Regions from separate parts of the Homo sapiens genome. Here region 2 is linked to region 1. The links come from fine-mapping of genetic effects on gene expression. Tissue or cell type: T cells. Region 1 holds a variant in brackets; the other region holds the start of a gene. All regions are shown on one strand. Distances are from middle to middle.

Region 1 (8,000 bases):
CGGATCATGAGGTCAGGAGTTCGAGACCAGCCTGGCCAACATGGTGAAACCCCGTCTCTACTAAAAATACAGAAATTAGCTGGGCGTGGTGGCAGGCACCTGTAATCCCAGCTACTCAGGAGGCTGAGGCAGGAGAATCACTTGAACCCAAGACAGGGAGGTTGCAGTGAGCCAAGACTGTGCCATTGCACTCCAGCCTGGGCGACAAGAGTGAAACTCTGTCTCAAAAAAAAGCCAGGGGTCCTGTAGGTAGAATTCAGACATTAGACAGGGAGGGGCTCAGGGGCCTTTCTGATCCCTTCCAGGTCTGAGATTCTGTGGTTCTCAGCAATTTGCCAGTGCCTGACTGGAAGATGGAGGCTGGTTTCGTAACCTGGGGCTTTCAAAGTTCTGAATTCTGGGTGGAGTTGTCTCAAACGGTAGGCTCTCAAAGAACACCTGCATGCAGCCTAACCAGTCCCCAACTCAGTGACTTTCAGACTGAACCTCACTGCTACTTCCAAGCTCCTCTGAAGCTTGCCACATTCCATCGGTATTATCCTAATTCATACGAGCCTCTCATCCTGCCATCTAAAGTATAAGTTACTTGAGAGTAGGGACTATGTCTGTAAAAATACATAGTACGTGGCATTCTAAGGAAAGGTGTAGTGAGCGAGGGCTGCCCTTTAGAGTCACCTGCTCTTCCTGTTTCCCTGGTTGTGTGTCTTCTCACCTGCCTTCCTGCATCCAGCCATGCCCCACTGTGGCCGGAGTAGTCGTGTTCTACAATTTGAATCTAATATATTGCTTCCCTCCTTAAAACTCTTTGGTGCCTCTCCTTTACCTTCAGGAAAATACCCAGACTCCTTAGTCTGGCCCAGAAGACCGTTCATGACTTGGTTCCTACTGATCTCTCCAGTCTTTTTGTGCCACCTCCATTGTCCCAACTCTATGTATTTTAGGCACACTCAACCCCTCACAGGTCCTTGGGTAAACCTCTTCTCTTCTTTCCTTTTCTCTTTTTTTTTTTTTTTTTTGAGACGGAGTCTCACTCTGTCTCCCAGGCTGGTGTGCAGTGGCATGATCTCAGCTCACTGCAACCTCCACCTCCTGGGTTCAAGTGATTCTCCTGTCTCAGCCTCCCGAGTAGCTGGGATTACAGGCATGTGCCACCACACCCAGCTAATTTTTGTATTTTTAATGGAGATGGGGTTTTGTCATGTTGGCCAGGCTGGTCTTAAACCCCTGACCTCGGGTGATCCACCCGCCTCAACCTCCCAAAGTGCTAGGATGACAGGCATGAGCCACTGAGCCCAGCTTCTTTTCTTTTCAGCAGGGCCTCACGCTGTCACCCAGGCTGAAGTGCAGTGGCCCGATCATTGCTCACTGCAGCCTCAACTTCCCAGGCTCAAGCAATCCTCCCACCTCAGCCTCCTGAGTAGCTGGGACTATAGCATGCACCACCATACGTGCCTATTTTTTTTTTTTTTTTTTTTTTTTTTTTTTTGGTAGAGGCAGGGTCTTACCGTGTTTCCCAGGCTAGTCGCAAACTCCTGGACTCAAGTGACTCAAGTGATCCTCCTGCCTCAGCCTCCCAAAGTGCTGGGATTATAGACATGAGCCACCATGCCCTGCCCTTAAAACATTTTTATTGAGATATAATTAACACACCACATAGTTCACCCATTTAAAGCATACAGTACAGCCAGGCATGGTGGCTCCTGTCTATAATCCCAGCTTTTTGGGAGGCCGAGGCAGGAAGGATCATTTGAGGCCAGGAGTTTGAGACCAGCCTGGGCAACATACCAAGACATCATCTCTATTAAAAATAAAAACATTAGCCTTGTGTGGTGTCTCACAACTGTAGTCTTAGCTACTCCAGAGACTAAGGCAGAAGGATCACTTGCGCCCAGGAGTTTGAGATTACAGTGAGCTATAATCATGCCACTGCACTCCAGCCCATAAAACAGAACAGAACAAGACACTGAGAAAAAAAAAAGGGATACAGTGCAGTGATTTTGTGCAATACACTATGGTTTTAGTGATTTACAGAACTGTGCAACCATCACCATGATCTAAGTTTAGAAGGTTTTTAGTATCCCAAAAAGAAACTCCATATCCATTCATAGTCACTCCCTATTTCCCCCTCCCCACAAATCCTAGGCAACCAGTAATCTACTTTCTGTCTGTATAGATTTGCCTATTATGGACATTTCATGTTATTCATTTCATGGTCTCCTGTGACTGGATTCTTTCACTTAGGATAATGTTTTGAAGGTACACCCATGTTGTAGCATGTATCGGTACTTCATTATTATTTCTGGATAATACCTCATTGTATGGATATACCTCATTTTGTTTATCCATTCATCAGTTAGTGGACATTTGGGTTGTGTCCACTTTTGGCTATTATGAATAATGCTGCTGTGAACATGTGTATGTAAGTATTTGTGTACCTGTTTTCAGTTCTTTTATGTATATACTAGGAATATAGTTGCTGGGTCATATGGTAACTATGTTTTGCTTTTTGAGGAACTGCCAAGCTGTTTTCCAAAATGGTTGCATTATTTTACATTCTTGTAAGCAAGGTACCAGAGTTTCAGTTTCTCCGCATCTTTATCAACATTTGTTATTATCTTTCCTTTTTTACTACTGTCATCCTGATAGATGTTAAGTGATATCTCATTGTGGTTTTGATTTGCTGATAGCTAATGATGCTGAGCATCTTTCCCATGTGCTCTCATTGACCGTATGTGTGTTTTCTTTGGAGGAATGCCCATTCAGATCCTTTGCCCATTTTTAATTGGGCTATTTGACTTTTTATTCTTAAATTGTAAGAGTTCTTTCTGTGTTCTGGATACCAGTACCCTATATCTGGTATGTGATTTCCAAGTATTTTCTCCACTCTCTAAGTTGTCTTTTCACTTTCTTTAGGGTATCATTTTTAGCACAAAAGTCTTTAATTCTGATGAAACCCAATTTACCTATTTTTCCTTTGGTCATTTATGCTTTTGGTGTCATATCTAAGAAACTATTGTTTAGTCCCAAGTTTTCTTCTAGTATGTTTATAACATACTACCTCTTACATTTAGGTCTTTGATTCGTTTTGCATTAATTTTTGTATATGGTATATTAGTCCATTTTCACTACTGATAAAGACATACCTAAGACTGGGCAATTTACAGAAGAGGTTTAATTGTAGTTACAACTCCACATGGCAGGGGAAGCCTCACAATCATGGCAGAAGGCAAGGAGGAGCAAGTCACGTCTTACATGAATGGCAGCAGGCAAAAGAGAGAAACTGTGCAGGGAAACTCCCATTTTTAAAACCATCAGATCTCATGAGACCCATTCACTACCACAAGAACGGCACAGGAAAGACCTGCCCCCATGATTCAGTCATCTACCACTGGGTCCTTCCCACAACACATGGGAATTATGGGAGCTACCAGATGAGATTTGGGTGGGGACAAAGAGTCAAACCATATCAGTGTGAGGTCAGGGTCCAAGGTCATCCTTTTGCATGTTGTTCTCCAGTTGTCCCAGGACCATTTGTTGAAAAGAACTTTCCTCTATTTGCTGCATTCTTTCTTTCTTTGCTGCCTAGAGCCTTTCCCTGCCCTTCGCCCTTCTGTTACTCGTATTTTAAGTCAAGTCTCAGCTCAGCGGTTACCCCTTCTAAGAGGCTATCCCTGATCGTCCCTCTGTGTGTGTGAGAGAGCCCCCTCATGCCTTAATCCTGATGTTTATCATTGTAGGATTTCAGCTGTTCATCTTCCCCACTTGTTTTCCAGGCCAGGTCTTGGGAGACAGGGGCTGTGTGCTTAACATCTTACATTACTTAATATGCACTTACATATATTCAACTTCAGGGGGAAGGGGAGATAGTACTTGAATCACAGTGTAATCTTCCATTACCTGTGAACTCTAGATTGTACAGAAAATCCGGTTATAACTTGTAATTCTTTGAGTACATCAGTAATGCACCTTAGGTTTAATGTGAGGAACAGGACTGATAGTTCTCTTCAACCTAAACATCCACTGGTAGACAGGGAAAAGCCCAGCACCCGCTCCCTGCCCCTTCTCCCTGAACCATGGAATGTAAGTCCTTTCATTAGGCTACTGGGCCAATTTTTAGACCTAAGCTCATGGCTGGACCAATAGTAGCCTTCATAGATGCCAATGCCCTTCCTTGATGGGCTTCAGTGAGGACTCCTGACCAATCACTGACGAGGGGGGTTGGGAGGACTTCTGATGGGGGAGTTGGCCTCCCTGGTCCTACACCTACCTGCCTGGAGAAGGAGCCAAAGCCACTTAAGCAAAACTGAGCAGCAGCCCACAGTGTCCATCTACCATGTCACCCCAGTGCTGAGCGATTTCTAAAAGGTTACTTTTTTCAATTATTTAAAAAAAACACCAAAAATTCAAGTAATACGGAAATAAGTAAAGGAGAAAGTCCCCTGTAATTTTTCATAGAGAAAGAGGAAGGAATGGGGGGCAGCTGTGTAAGTCAAACATGTTTGTAAAACTCCGTGAGTTTGAAACTAGTAAAATAGAAAGTGAAAGCCTGCTATAATTATGGTGGAATTGAGGGTGTCTTATTGTGTTACTAGAGAATTTTTTTAAGTAGGTTTTTAACATTTTGACCTTGTTAAAATGCTCCACTTTTCAAAACGGTCCTG[A/T]CAGGATATCCTGCTTCCTTCCACGCAGAAGAGGTGGTTTGTGCAGAAGTGCAGGCCTCAGAATGCTTTGCACATGAGAGGAATGGCAAGAGTTGCCTATCACTGAGGATTTGGGGAGGAGGGATCACAGGATATGGGACTGAAAATGAGACAGGGCCAGATAGCAAAAGGCCTTGAATGCTACACTAAGCACGAAGCAGCTCCTTAATTTGTGCATCACTGAAGCAAGAATAGAGTGGAGGACATGGCCCGTGTGGTCCTCGTGTTCTGAGTGGCTATGACATGGAGTTCTGTGTGAGCTCTCCATGAAGAAAATCCCGTCTCCAGGCAGTCAGTGGAGATTTGATCCTTACCACAAGAGCACGTGGACAAATTTGAATTATCGTGGATGTATATGGGCAGAAGAAGGTCTCAGAGCCATAAGGGTGGGGCCCTGTTAGCTCTGTTGGTTCCACTCAGCAGCCCACAGTGTGAGTGGGACCCTGCCAGCCCTGCTAGACTTGAGCATTGTCTGGTGACGCTGGTCCCCGCCTTCATTACTGCAGCAGAGGAAGTGTGGCTGTGGCAGTTGTGGGTTTTGTATTTTCTATTTAAATATGTCCCTTAATGTGCCAGTTGTTAAAAAGACTACCAGTGGGCTCTGAAGGGATGCCTGGACACTTTGAAAGTGTGGTTCAGATGTGAAATTGCACTCAAAAGATGTTTTAAGAGAGACGAGGGCACGTTGATGTCAGTTTCGGTTTGGGCTGTGTAGTAGCAGCATTTTGAACTTGGCCCTCTCTCCTTTCTGAGAGCTAAAGACCTTATCTCCCTGCGGATGGCATTGCGTGCAGTTAATTATGGCCAGATGGACTCAGCCGCTTCTTCATCGTCTTCTCTCGGACTCTGCAGACCTACACCGTGCCTTTAAAGGAAGCAGGGCCCTCCCTGCTGAAGCATTCAGTGAGCCCAGGCACCAGCATCTTCAAACCGAGTCTTTTCTCTCCTTAGTGCTGCTCCCCGCTTTCCAGGCCTTCCTGGGATATCTTAGAGGTAAGAAAACTGAAGCCTCGACCTAGGGAGAAATGCTTTAACAAAGACGACGCTGCTAGTTAAATCAATCTAGAACTGAGTCCAGCCTCCAGATCTCCTGATTATTTTTTTTTCTAACAGTTGATGGGATGAAATCTACATAAGATTTAATCCTTTGAAGCCCATTGTTTGATGAGTATTAAAAACTTATGCAGCCACGCCTCTGTCACCACAATCCCGCTTTAGCACATTCCCATGGCCCAAGCGAGTTCCCCGGAGCCCCTCTGCAGTCAGTCCCCACCCTCAACCCCACCCCAGGCTTCCACCAACTGGTTGAGTTTATAGTGTAGTGTTATTTCCATGACTTGGTTATTTAAATTTTTTTCTGCTTCTAACTGGGTAAGAGTTATAACTTAAATGTGAGTAAAATATGTCAATAACGTGACCCTCAGTTATTGTCCTTGTGTGATATCATACAAGTCTCCACACATGCCAGGTACTGGGCAAAATGCTTAGGGCATCAGAGCAACCTGCGAAGAAGCGACCAGCACCAGAGTTTACAGGTGTGGGAAATGAAAGTTCCACAAGGTCACTGATGCCCCCAGATCACGTGATCCATGGCAGAATTGAGCTCCTTCCCACATCTCATTAATGCCAGACACAAGTTTTCTTTCAATCTGAATGCTCTGCCCTGTTCCGGATTTTTAAAAAATAATAAGTGCAATAGAACATTGCCTTTTACTAAGAATTATGCCACTTACTTGTATTTCTGAGAAGGGTTGTCCTTAAGATTTCAGAGTGGAAATGAAAGTGGGGATTTTGCTGAGGAAAATTACTTTGATTGTTTTTAATACCTTTCTGTGAATTTCACATGATGTTTTTATGGCACACTGCCACAGCATTAACAATTGGCACTACCAGATGTCTACTTTGTCTTAATTGTGGGCAACCTGCAAGCGCAGCCTGGAAGATGTTAAAAACTGAAACCTTTATTTTTGTCCCTGGATATAAGACGAACGGGAGTTCTTGTATTTTACGAGAGAGTCACCAGCTCCTGGCTTCCAGTGAGCCTCATCTGGATGAATGCCACCCAGGCCCCAGCTGACGCCTCTGAGGCCTTCCTGGGAGCTCTGGAGTCCTCACAGCCTAGTCACACTGCTTCCTCTCTTCATTGCAGCTCCTGAAGGTGCGGCACTCGCCTTGAGGCACTTTCTTCTGAGCTGTGAGCTATGGGCAAGCAGTGGAGGGGGAAGAGAGCAGCTGAAGCAGATGCCGGTTCAACTTACTTAAAGATGTGGGACAAGCTCTGAGGAAGCCCCCAAGACAATGATGTCTGGTTGTGCACCATTGAAGCAAGAACAGAAACCATCCCAGAGTGGAGGACATGGCCCATGTGGTCCTCCTGTTCTGAGTGGCTATGAGATGGAGTTCTGTGTGAGCTCTCTACAGAAAAAGCCCTGTCTCCAGGCAATCAGTGGAGATCTGTTAAACGAGTTGAAACAAAAGAGGACAAGGAATTGCTGTGGCTTTAGACGTTGCCAGGACATGTAGAAACTCACTCAGGATTTACTACTGCATCCACTGTCACTTAGGCGCAGGAGGGGTCACAGTCAGAAGGTGACTACTGAGAAATGTGCCCTACCCACAGTCTAGAAAATTAAGTTTGGGCTGGGCGTGGTGGCTCACATCTATAATCCCAGAACTTTGGAAGGTGGAGGCAGGTGGATCACTAGGTCAGGAGTTTGAGACCAGCCTGACCAACATGGTGAAACCCCGTCTGTACTGAAAATACAAAAAGTAGCCGGGTGTGTCAGTGCACGCCTGTAATCCCAGCTACTCAGGAACCTGAGGCAGGAGAATGGCTTGAAACTGGGAGGCAGAGGTTGCAGTGAGCTGAAATTGCGCCACTGCACTCCAGCCTGGGTGACAGAGCGAGACTCTGTCTCAAAAAAAAAAAAAGAAAAAAAAAGAAGAAAATTAAGTTTGAAACCTGAAATTAACCTCTTGGTGAGAATGGAAATGGAATGAAATTTCACTCCTTTCCAGATGCAGCTTCTGAAGAGGAGACCTGGCAGCCTGGCGAGCATCCAGCTCGCTCACGCACCTCTTTCTAGTCCCGTGGCCATCAGTGAGCTTCTCCGGGTCCCTCTTGCCACTTCTCAGATGTTCCTTTCTGTCCTAGGAGATTTGTAAAACCAGATACTTAGGATATGATTCTCTAGTGGAGGGTTAGGCCTTTAGGTCTCTAAAAATTGCCATTCATGACCTTCGGGCCTAGGGTTTTGAGATGAATGTGCAGTGTGTGTGGCCGCTCTGTGTGTCCCGCTT
Region 2 (8,164 bases), 34 kb before region 1:
TACTTTCCTCCTGGACCCTTCTCTGCCTTCCAGCCTCATTTCATCATTGCAACTTGTGTTGCATAAGTAGGTACATAGCGAATCAGTTGGGGCATCTGGGGTTGGCTAGTTGAAACCACAGAGGAACTTACTATCTCATACAGGTGAAATGTACGGAGGCAAGATGGACTTCAGGACTGGTTTGATTTAGTGACTCAAAAATGTCATAAAGGAAATGGTTTCTTTCTAACCGTGGTCTTCTGCTTCCCACAGCATTACTTTCTTCCTAAAATAAGCTCTTCTTGTAGTCCAAGATGTCTGTCTTACCAACAGCTTCTGAGGCTACTTACTGCCTAGTTCTTGTCTAGCAGAACATGAAAGCATCTCTCCCCCAGCATCCAATAAATTCCTGAGACTTCCTCTGATTGGATCAGTGTGGTTCCTGTGGCTACCCATGAACCATTCCTAGTGGCAAGGAGGATGGGGCAATGGGGCTATCTGGGTGGCTGAGACCAGTAAGTCTCAAACTCTGGTCTCAGGATCAATTTACACACCTAGAAATTACTGAGGATCCCAAAGAATCTTTTTGACATGGTCTTTCTCTTGATATTTGCCAAATTAAAAATTAAAACTGAGAAATTTTTAAATATTTAATTTAATTTAAATATTTAAATTTTAAAATATTTATTAAGTCATTAAAATAATAAATCTGGCTGGGCATTGTGGTTCACACCTATAATCCCAGCACTTTGGGAGGCTGAGGAGGGTGGATCACCTGAGGTCCGGAGTTCTTGACCAGCCTGGCCAACATGGTGAAACCCCATCTGTACTAAAAATACAAATATTAGCTGGGCATGGTGGTACGTGCCTGTAATCCCAGCTACTTCTGGAGGCTAAGGCAGGAGAATCACCTGAACCTGGGAGGTGGAGGTTGCAGTGAGCCATGATTGTACCATTGCACTCCAGCCTGGGTGGCAGAGCAAGACTCTGTCTCAAGTAAAAAATAAATAAATAAAATAATAATAATAATAAATCCATTGCATGTTAATATATATTGATAAAAAATAACTTCTTTTTTTTAGACAGAGTTTCGCTCTGTCACCCAGGCTAGAGTGCACTAGCGTGATCTCGGCTCACTGCAACCTCTGCCTCCTGGGTTCAAGCAATTTTCCTGCCTCAGCCTCCTGAGTAGCTGGGATTACAGGCACATGCCACCATGCCCAGCTAATTTTTTGTACTTTTAGCAGAGACAGGGTTTCACCATGTTGTCCAGGCTGGTCTCAAACTCCTGACCTCAAGTAATCTGCCCACCTCGGCTTCCCAAAGTGCTGGGATCACAGGTGCGAGCCACCATGCCCAGCCAAAAAATAACTGGTTTTGGCTGCATGCAGTGGCTCACATCTGTGATCCCAGCACTTTGGGAGGCCCAGGCAGGAGGAACACTTGAGCCTAGGAGTTTGAGGCCAGCCTGGGCAACAGAGGGAGACTGCTGTCTCTACAAAAAATTAGAAATTAGCCTGGCATGGTGTTGGGTACCTGTAGTTCCAGCTACTTGGGAGGCTGAGGTAGGAGGATTGCTTGAGCCCAGGAGGTGGAGGTTGCAGTGAGCCAAGATCGTGCCACTGCACTCCAGCTTGGATGACAGAGTGAATCTGTCTCTAAAAAAGAAAAAAAAAAAAACGCTGCTGTCCTGGATTTGTAAGTAGCCTGAGTGACTCTTTGCTAGTCACTATTCAGAAGCTTCTCTGAGATCAGCCACTGACTTGGAGAGATAACAGTAAGGCTTTGAGATCTAGAGGCTGATCTTAGTCTGCTGTTTGGAGATCTCTGCCTTAATCCAGAATAATAGCTGAGGATGTCTCTGTGGCTGATGAAGAAAAGGAAGTTTGCAGGCCTGCTTGTCTTGCTGCCCAAGTGGGTCAACCTAATGTGAGTGGAGTGAATGAGGTAGTAAGGGCTTAACAGATGTCTTGTGATTCTGGGACAGGAGGCAGCTTCAAGTTCCTTTTCTTCCTCACCCCCACCTTACACCCATCCTTGGAAGCTGGGATACTGCTGACTCTCATGGCAGCCATAACGCTATCAGCGCCTGGCTTTGCCGACAAGGGGAATCTGGAAGAGAAGGGGAAGGACAGGGGAGACAAAGAGAGGTAAAGAGTGTTGCATCAAGCACATGTGTCAGAAGTGTTCAAACCAGAGCGCCTCCATTTTGAGTGAGGGCTAGAAAAATGAGGCTGGGACTTGCTAGGCTGCATTTCCTGAAAGCTAGGCATTCCTAGCCTCTAGGTGTTTATGGTTAAGAGAACAAATTAATAATGCTTACTAAACAGACCCAGACTTGAGAGAGTCCAGATATCCCGATATCTGGAGAACAAAGGCATTCCTAATTTTGCTTTAAAAATAATAATATTGATTATTGCAAAATATAGTAATTAGGGAAAATTAATCCTTTATCACAAACCCTTGTAGCAGAAGACATCTGCCCATATATACAAGCATTACAAGCATTGTACCTTAGTTGGATATGTCCCTCCTCTTATTTTCAGGAATGCCCTGCTGGAGTGCAGTGGCGATCTCGGCTCACTGTAGCCTCTGCCTCCCGGGTTCAAGCGATTCTCCTGCCTCAGCCCCGTGAGTAGCTGAGACAACAGGCTTGCGCCACCACGCCCGGCCAATATTTGTATTTCTAGTAGAGACGGGGTTTTGCCATGTTGGCCAGCTGGTCTTGAACTCCTGACATCAGGTGATCTGTCCGTCTCAGCCTCCCAAAGTGCTGGGATTACGCGTGAGCCACTGTGCCCAGCCACCACTTTACTTTCTTAATAAACTTGCTTTTACTTTGCACTGTGGACTTACTCTGAATTGTTTCTTGCGTGAGATCGAAGAACCCTCTCTTGGGGTCTAGATCGGGACCCCTTTCCTGTAACACATGGGCCTTGGGCTGATCTCCAAGATTAAGAGGGCAAGATACTCAGCTGCAAGGGTCAGCTGTCGCTGACCCCAGCAGCTGCTCTGCCTTGGCCAACTTACCGGATTTAAATCGCCCAGTGACAGCTTTTCCTCCAGTATTTTCAAAATGCTCCCAATATCCTCACGTTAGAACAATCCAGAAATAGTCTTATGGTAAAACTCTTTTGGGAAATGTGAAAGTAGAGTCCTCCCACCTTTTCCTTTGCAACGCTTTTGCCCCAACCTCGATCGCCCAGGCAGCACATTTTTTCCGGCACCCCCACCAAGGGAAGAACAGAGACATCTCCAAACCAGCTGCCCTGCGCCAAGCTGTTACAAAATAGAGCCACAAGTCTCCCGGTTTATGCAAACATATTTGGCTCGGTGTCTAGGATCTTCTTTTTCAAACTCAGAAGGAGATCACAGGCACACGGCCGCGGTGCTGTGTACGCCCCTCTGAAAGGAAGTTCTGCAAGTCGACCGACTTCACTGGCTTCACTGAAGTCCGGTCCGAAACCACCGGAAAGTTGCAGGCGCACAGTATACGTTCAGCTGTGTCCAAGAAATAACCTATCAATCACTGCCTTAAGCTTTGTTTCCTTCCTGAATTTTCTTATTTTCACGAATATTTATGCTTTCACAAACTGTATGTCATTTCCTCTCCAGAACCAAGGGGGGCTCGCCCCAGCCTGGCCCCCGCCCCGGGTGCGTCCCTGCAGGGGGCGCCCTGCTCTGGCAATGCCCACCGCACCGCAGGGCTGACTGGCCGCGCGCCCGGGGGCGGGGGCCGCCGCGGAGGCATCGTGCTCTCCGATTGGCCGTCCGCGTCCTCGTGACGTCAGACCCCGCCCACGCGCCCCTCCTCCGCATCTGAGCGGGGGAGCGGCGGCCCCCAGCTGAATGGGCGCGAGAGCGGCGCTGGGGGCGGGTGGGGGCGCGGGGTACCGGGCTGGCGGCCGGCCGGCGCCCCCTCATTAGTATGCGGACGAAGGCGGCGGGCTGCGCGGAGCGGCGTCCCCTGCAGCCGCGGACCGAGGCAGCGGCGGCACCTGCCGGCCGAGGTACGTGGCGCAGCCCCCTCCTCGGCGTCGCGGGGGCCCGCGGGCTGGGGGCTGCGGCGGCGACTTGTCTCTTCCCGGGCCGGCTGGGCGCGGCGTTTCCGCCTCGAACCCCGCGGGCAGCGCCCAGGGCACGACACCCTCAGGCGAGCCCGGCTGGGGCGCGGGCGGAGGGTCGTGGTCCCGGGCCGTGTGGACCGGGCGGGGGGTCCCACGCAGGTGTGTACGCGGTAGAGGGTGGGGCGGACCGCCGGGTGTCGGGTCCCGCCGCAGTGGCCCTTTCCCCGCCGCTTTCCGCTGCAGCTCGGGATTTAATTCATTGCTGGAAGCTTCGGAGTTAGCAGAGCCGAGTTAACTCGTTTTCCTGGGATGGGCTTAGGGAACCCCCTGCAAGGTTACTAGCAGCTCCTGAAACCTCTCTCTGCATCCATCGGGGAGGCGTGATGTGGGGCCGCTGGTAGAAATTTGCCGGTGACCTTCCCTGCACCCTCTCTGCAGCCAGCCTTGCGGAGAAGACAGGTTTTGGCGACCTTTTGATTTCTTCTGAATTGTAAGCCGTGGCTTGACGCGGGTGTGCATTCATTGTACGCCTTGCGTGTGTAAGTAACGCAGGGTTTTCCGAGAGCATCCCCGAGGAGCCCTGCCCTTGCCTCACACCCGCTTGGTGACCTTGGCAGACACTGATCCCCCTGTGGGGCTCGGGCTCATGGTCTCTCCTGAGAAGCTTACCCTGCCGATGGCCGAGGTCCCTTCCAGGCCCCGGGTTTTTCTAATCATAAAAAAATACGTTTACGAGGGTAGAGGATCCTGCAGAATCTCTAGCTGACTCGGAAGACGAATTTTATATCCTCATGTCTTAAGTCATGCATGCGGCTTTTGCTTAATTAGGCATCGTTCATTTGAAGGGGAAAATGGTTTTATGTGCTGCGCTTCATCTGGCACCAGTGGTTGCCTGCTCCTCGTGGCAGGGCCGTGCTGGGTGTCACAGAGAGGAAGGAGACTCATCTCCTGCCCTCTGGTGTTTAGCTGCCCTCCCCCGGGCTTATGGCTGCTAATCCTTTTCCACGGAAGGATACAGCTGCTGAAACTGTGGAAGAGGAATCCATTTCTGCTGCATGAAGGGGCACAGACTTGAATACAGTCAGGACAGGTTGTGGTTTCACTTGTGTAATCCTGAGAGCTTGACAGCTTCGAGGAGTGTCTAACATTGCTAGTAACAGAGCCTAGAAGCACCTGAATTCCAGCTGTCACTTGGAGAAGGAGAGATTCATACGAACTGCGAGAGCATATAACCAGCATGTCTTGAGTCTTTTACCCATGTGCCTGTTATATGGATGCTGCTGTTTTTGTAAGATGAAATGACCCTTGGATATTCTGGGTTATGATCAGCATTTCTTCGTCTAGGCGAGAAAAGAAACAGGTGAGATAGGAAGGCATGAAGGGGCTCATGGAAGAGAGAGGGCTGACAGGCAGAAATTTTGAGAGCTCACATTTACGACTATTTGGACAGTTCTTATAATTTTGGCATAAATTGTAAATTGTTGCATGTTATCAAAATAGATTGGTGATGAACGTTAAGGATATATCCGTGGCAGAATAAGAACACACTCTTTGTTCTTTGGTTTGCTCCTCTAGTTCTTCCCTGCTTGCCTTGTGGGACTATTTGCAGCAATGAGGGGAATTTATCTAGCAGGTTGGCCTCGGGAGGCAATGAATGAAAAGAGGTTGGTGAGTCCTCTGTGGGAGTCCATTCCAGGTCCTGGAGGGCTGAGGTGGGTGTCTTGGAGCCAGCAGTTTCTGGGAGAAGGGATAAAGCTCACCTTCCACACCCTCCTGGCTCCTGAGGAGCGATTTAATCCGCACTGCCTGTGGACACGATGGAGGACTGAGATCACTCCCGAAGGGCATGCTCCGTGGTTTTAGTCTGCTGGGAAGCTCTGGCAGAAGTAAAACAACTGGGAATATACACATGTTAATGATGCTCCAAGCTGCCTAACTGCTGAGGAAGGAAAAGCAAGGGCTGGATCAGTGTGGGTGGCATAAGTTAGCAAAGGCATCCAAAGTGGGGTGAATCACAGGCCTGGTGTGGGAGGAAACCATAAATATGACGGTGACACGCAGGCTCGCCCGGGAGACAGCCAGCTTAAGCACACGTGCAGAGGAGAAGCAAGTGAAATGCGTAAGGGAGCAGGAGAAAAATCAGCTTTGAGGCTTCAAGGACACTACCAGGCTTGTCTTACCTGGACACCAGACAGACAAAACTTTTTTTTCCTCTTTTTTTTTTAAGTATAGCATAGATACTAGGAAAGTAGACATACCATAAGTGTCCTGCTCAATGAATTTTCCAGACTGAACATGCCCATGCACTCAGCACTTAGATCAACAAACAGAACTGGCCGGGACCCTGGGAGCTCCCCTTGTGTTGTACTCCAGTCGCGGCCTCCCCCAGGATCAGCCTTGAACTCCTGGAGTCAAGCAATCCTCCTGCCTTAGCCTCCTCAGTAGCTGAGACTACGGGCACACACCACCAGACCCAGCTAATTTGTTTTATTTTATTTTGTAGAGACGGCTCCCACTGTGTTGTCCAGGCTGGTCTCTGGCAACTCCTAGCCTCAAACTATTCTCCCACATTGCCCTCCCAAAGCGCTGAGATTACAGGCGTGAGCAATTGCGCCTGGCTGGCTAGTGTATGCCTTCTTTCCTTAAGCATTGAGTTTCTGAGAATCACTCATGATGCTGCCCATGGTTGAAGCATGTTCACTCTCATTGGTGATAGGGGCCATTGGGTGAATATACCACATAGTCACGCATTGTTAGTGGACATTTGGGCAGTTTGCAGCATTTGTCTGTTACAGAAAGTGCCGCTGTGACCACTCTAGTGTCTGGCTTTGGTACATATGTGTCTGCATTTCTGATAGGTCCATACCTAGGCATGGTATTGCTGTTTTAGGAGCCACAGGCACAGCTATTTTACTCCAGTTTTTTTTTTCTTTTTTTTTTTTTTGAGACAGAGTCTCGCCGTCGCCCAGGCTGGAGTGCAGTGGCACGATCTCAGTTCACTGCAGGCTCCGCCTCCGGGGTTCACGCCATTCTGCCTCAGCTTCCCGAGTAGCTGGGACTACAGGCGCCTGCCACCTCGCCCGGCTAATTTTTTGTATTTTTAGTAGAGACAGGGTTTCACTGTGTTAGCCAGGATGGTCTCGATTTCCTGACCTCGTGATCCGCCCACCTCGGCCTCCCAAAGTGCTGGGATTACAGGCGTGAGCCACCGCGCCCGACCTTATTCCAGTTTTGAAATGATCACACTGGTAGTTCCTCACTGTTCGCTGATGAGGGCCACAGTTCTAAGGAGACTGGGGAAGGAATCAGGAGTCCTTCTGGCAGTCAGGATCAGTTTCTACCTGGCTGTGTATGGTGCCAGCAAGTGTGGTCACCTATAGGCCCCAGTCTCCCAGTGGGTCAGGCAGCAGGGCAAGGTGAGCTGTGAGGAACCCTTAGCTCCCCAAGAGCCTCTGACCTAAGGGAAGTGTTTCTCTGGTGAAACTGCCTGGCTTGGTCTCAACTCCCACCCTTGTTGCTGCAAACAAACCACTCCTCTCTGAGCTCTCATAATACTGCACTTCCTATACTTTATGTCTACTTCTGTGGCCTGCTTTCTCTGCATTTCTGCTAAAAATTATCCGTGACCTAGAGGAAAAGCCCATTTCTTATTTGGGTTTTTGAGGCCATGTAAGACATTTTTGTTGTCCCGTTATTACAGCATGGAAAAATGTTCAGGATTAAGTTATTGGATGGTTCACCAAGTCCTGTACCCATGAATTCTTTCCTTTTTTCCTTCAATTTTTAACATCTGGGATTATAACAGTTAAGTATCATGTGATAGGATAGGATCAGTTTGATAAAAATAACAGATTAGAAAGGTCTGCTTTGGTGGAATAGTACTTCTGTCTTTTGACTGTTAAGGCTGTTTTTAAGACCATCTCTTTTTCATAATTCAGAGCTTATGTGTATTGAGTTCTGAGCAGGGGCAGTTTTTCTGTTACACGTGTCGTTTCTTCCTCAGCCTTCCTCTCTCCTCCTCAGCCTCTGTGTTTTTATCCTCTTCTGCCCTGTTCTTCACCCCCTTTTTGCTTTTCATAAACATCTTATTCTCATCTCTAATCTATACTCTAGCAGAA

Evidence for each region. PIP is the estimated chance that this variant, and not a neighbour inherited with it, causes the effect.
Region 2: ST3GAL5 starts here. The variant in region 1 is fine-mapped to the expression of ST3GAL5 in T cells (TOPMed, PIP 0.92).

The regions. Positions count from the first base shown.
Region 1 is chr2:85,850,553-85,858,552 of GRCh38, reverse strand. The region is part of intron 3 of ST3GAL5 (ST3 beta-galactoside alpha-2,3-sialyltransferase 5); the gene reads left to right. Among named protein-coding and RNA genes, the nearest start is that of ST3GAL5, 34 kb to the left of the region's middle. RefSeq lists enhancers at 4,357-4,486, 4,857-4,956, 4,967-5,106. The variant A/T (reference allele first, on the strand shown) is at 4,662.
Region 2 is chr2:85,884,649-85,892,812 of GRCh38, reverse strand. ST3GAL5 (ST3 beta-galactoside alpha-2,3-sialyltransferase 5) reads left to right here and starts at 3,823. Exons shown (of 7, transcript NM_003896.4): 1 at 3,823-3,989. The coding sequence starts at 3,908. ST3GAL5-AS1 (ST3GAL5 antisense RNA 1) reads right to left here and starts at 3,533. Exons shown (of 3, transcript NR_110569.1): 1 at 3,010-3,533; 2 at 1,608-1,637; 3 at 561-1,122. RefSeq lists silencers at 3,422-4,041, 4,082-4,201 and enhancers at 4,372-4,451, 4,143-4,643, 4,982-5,111, 5,122-5,241.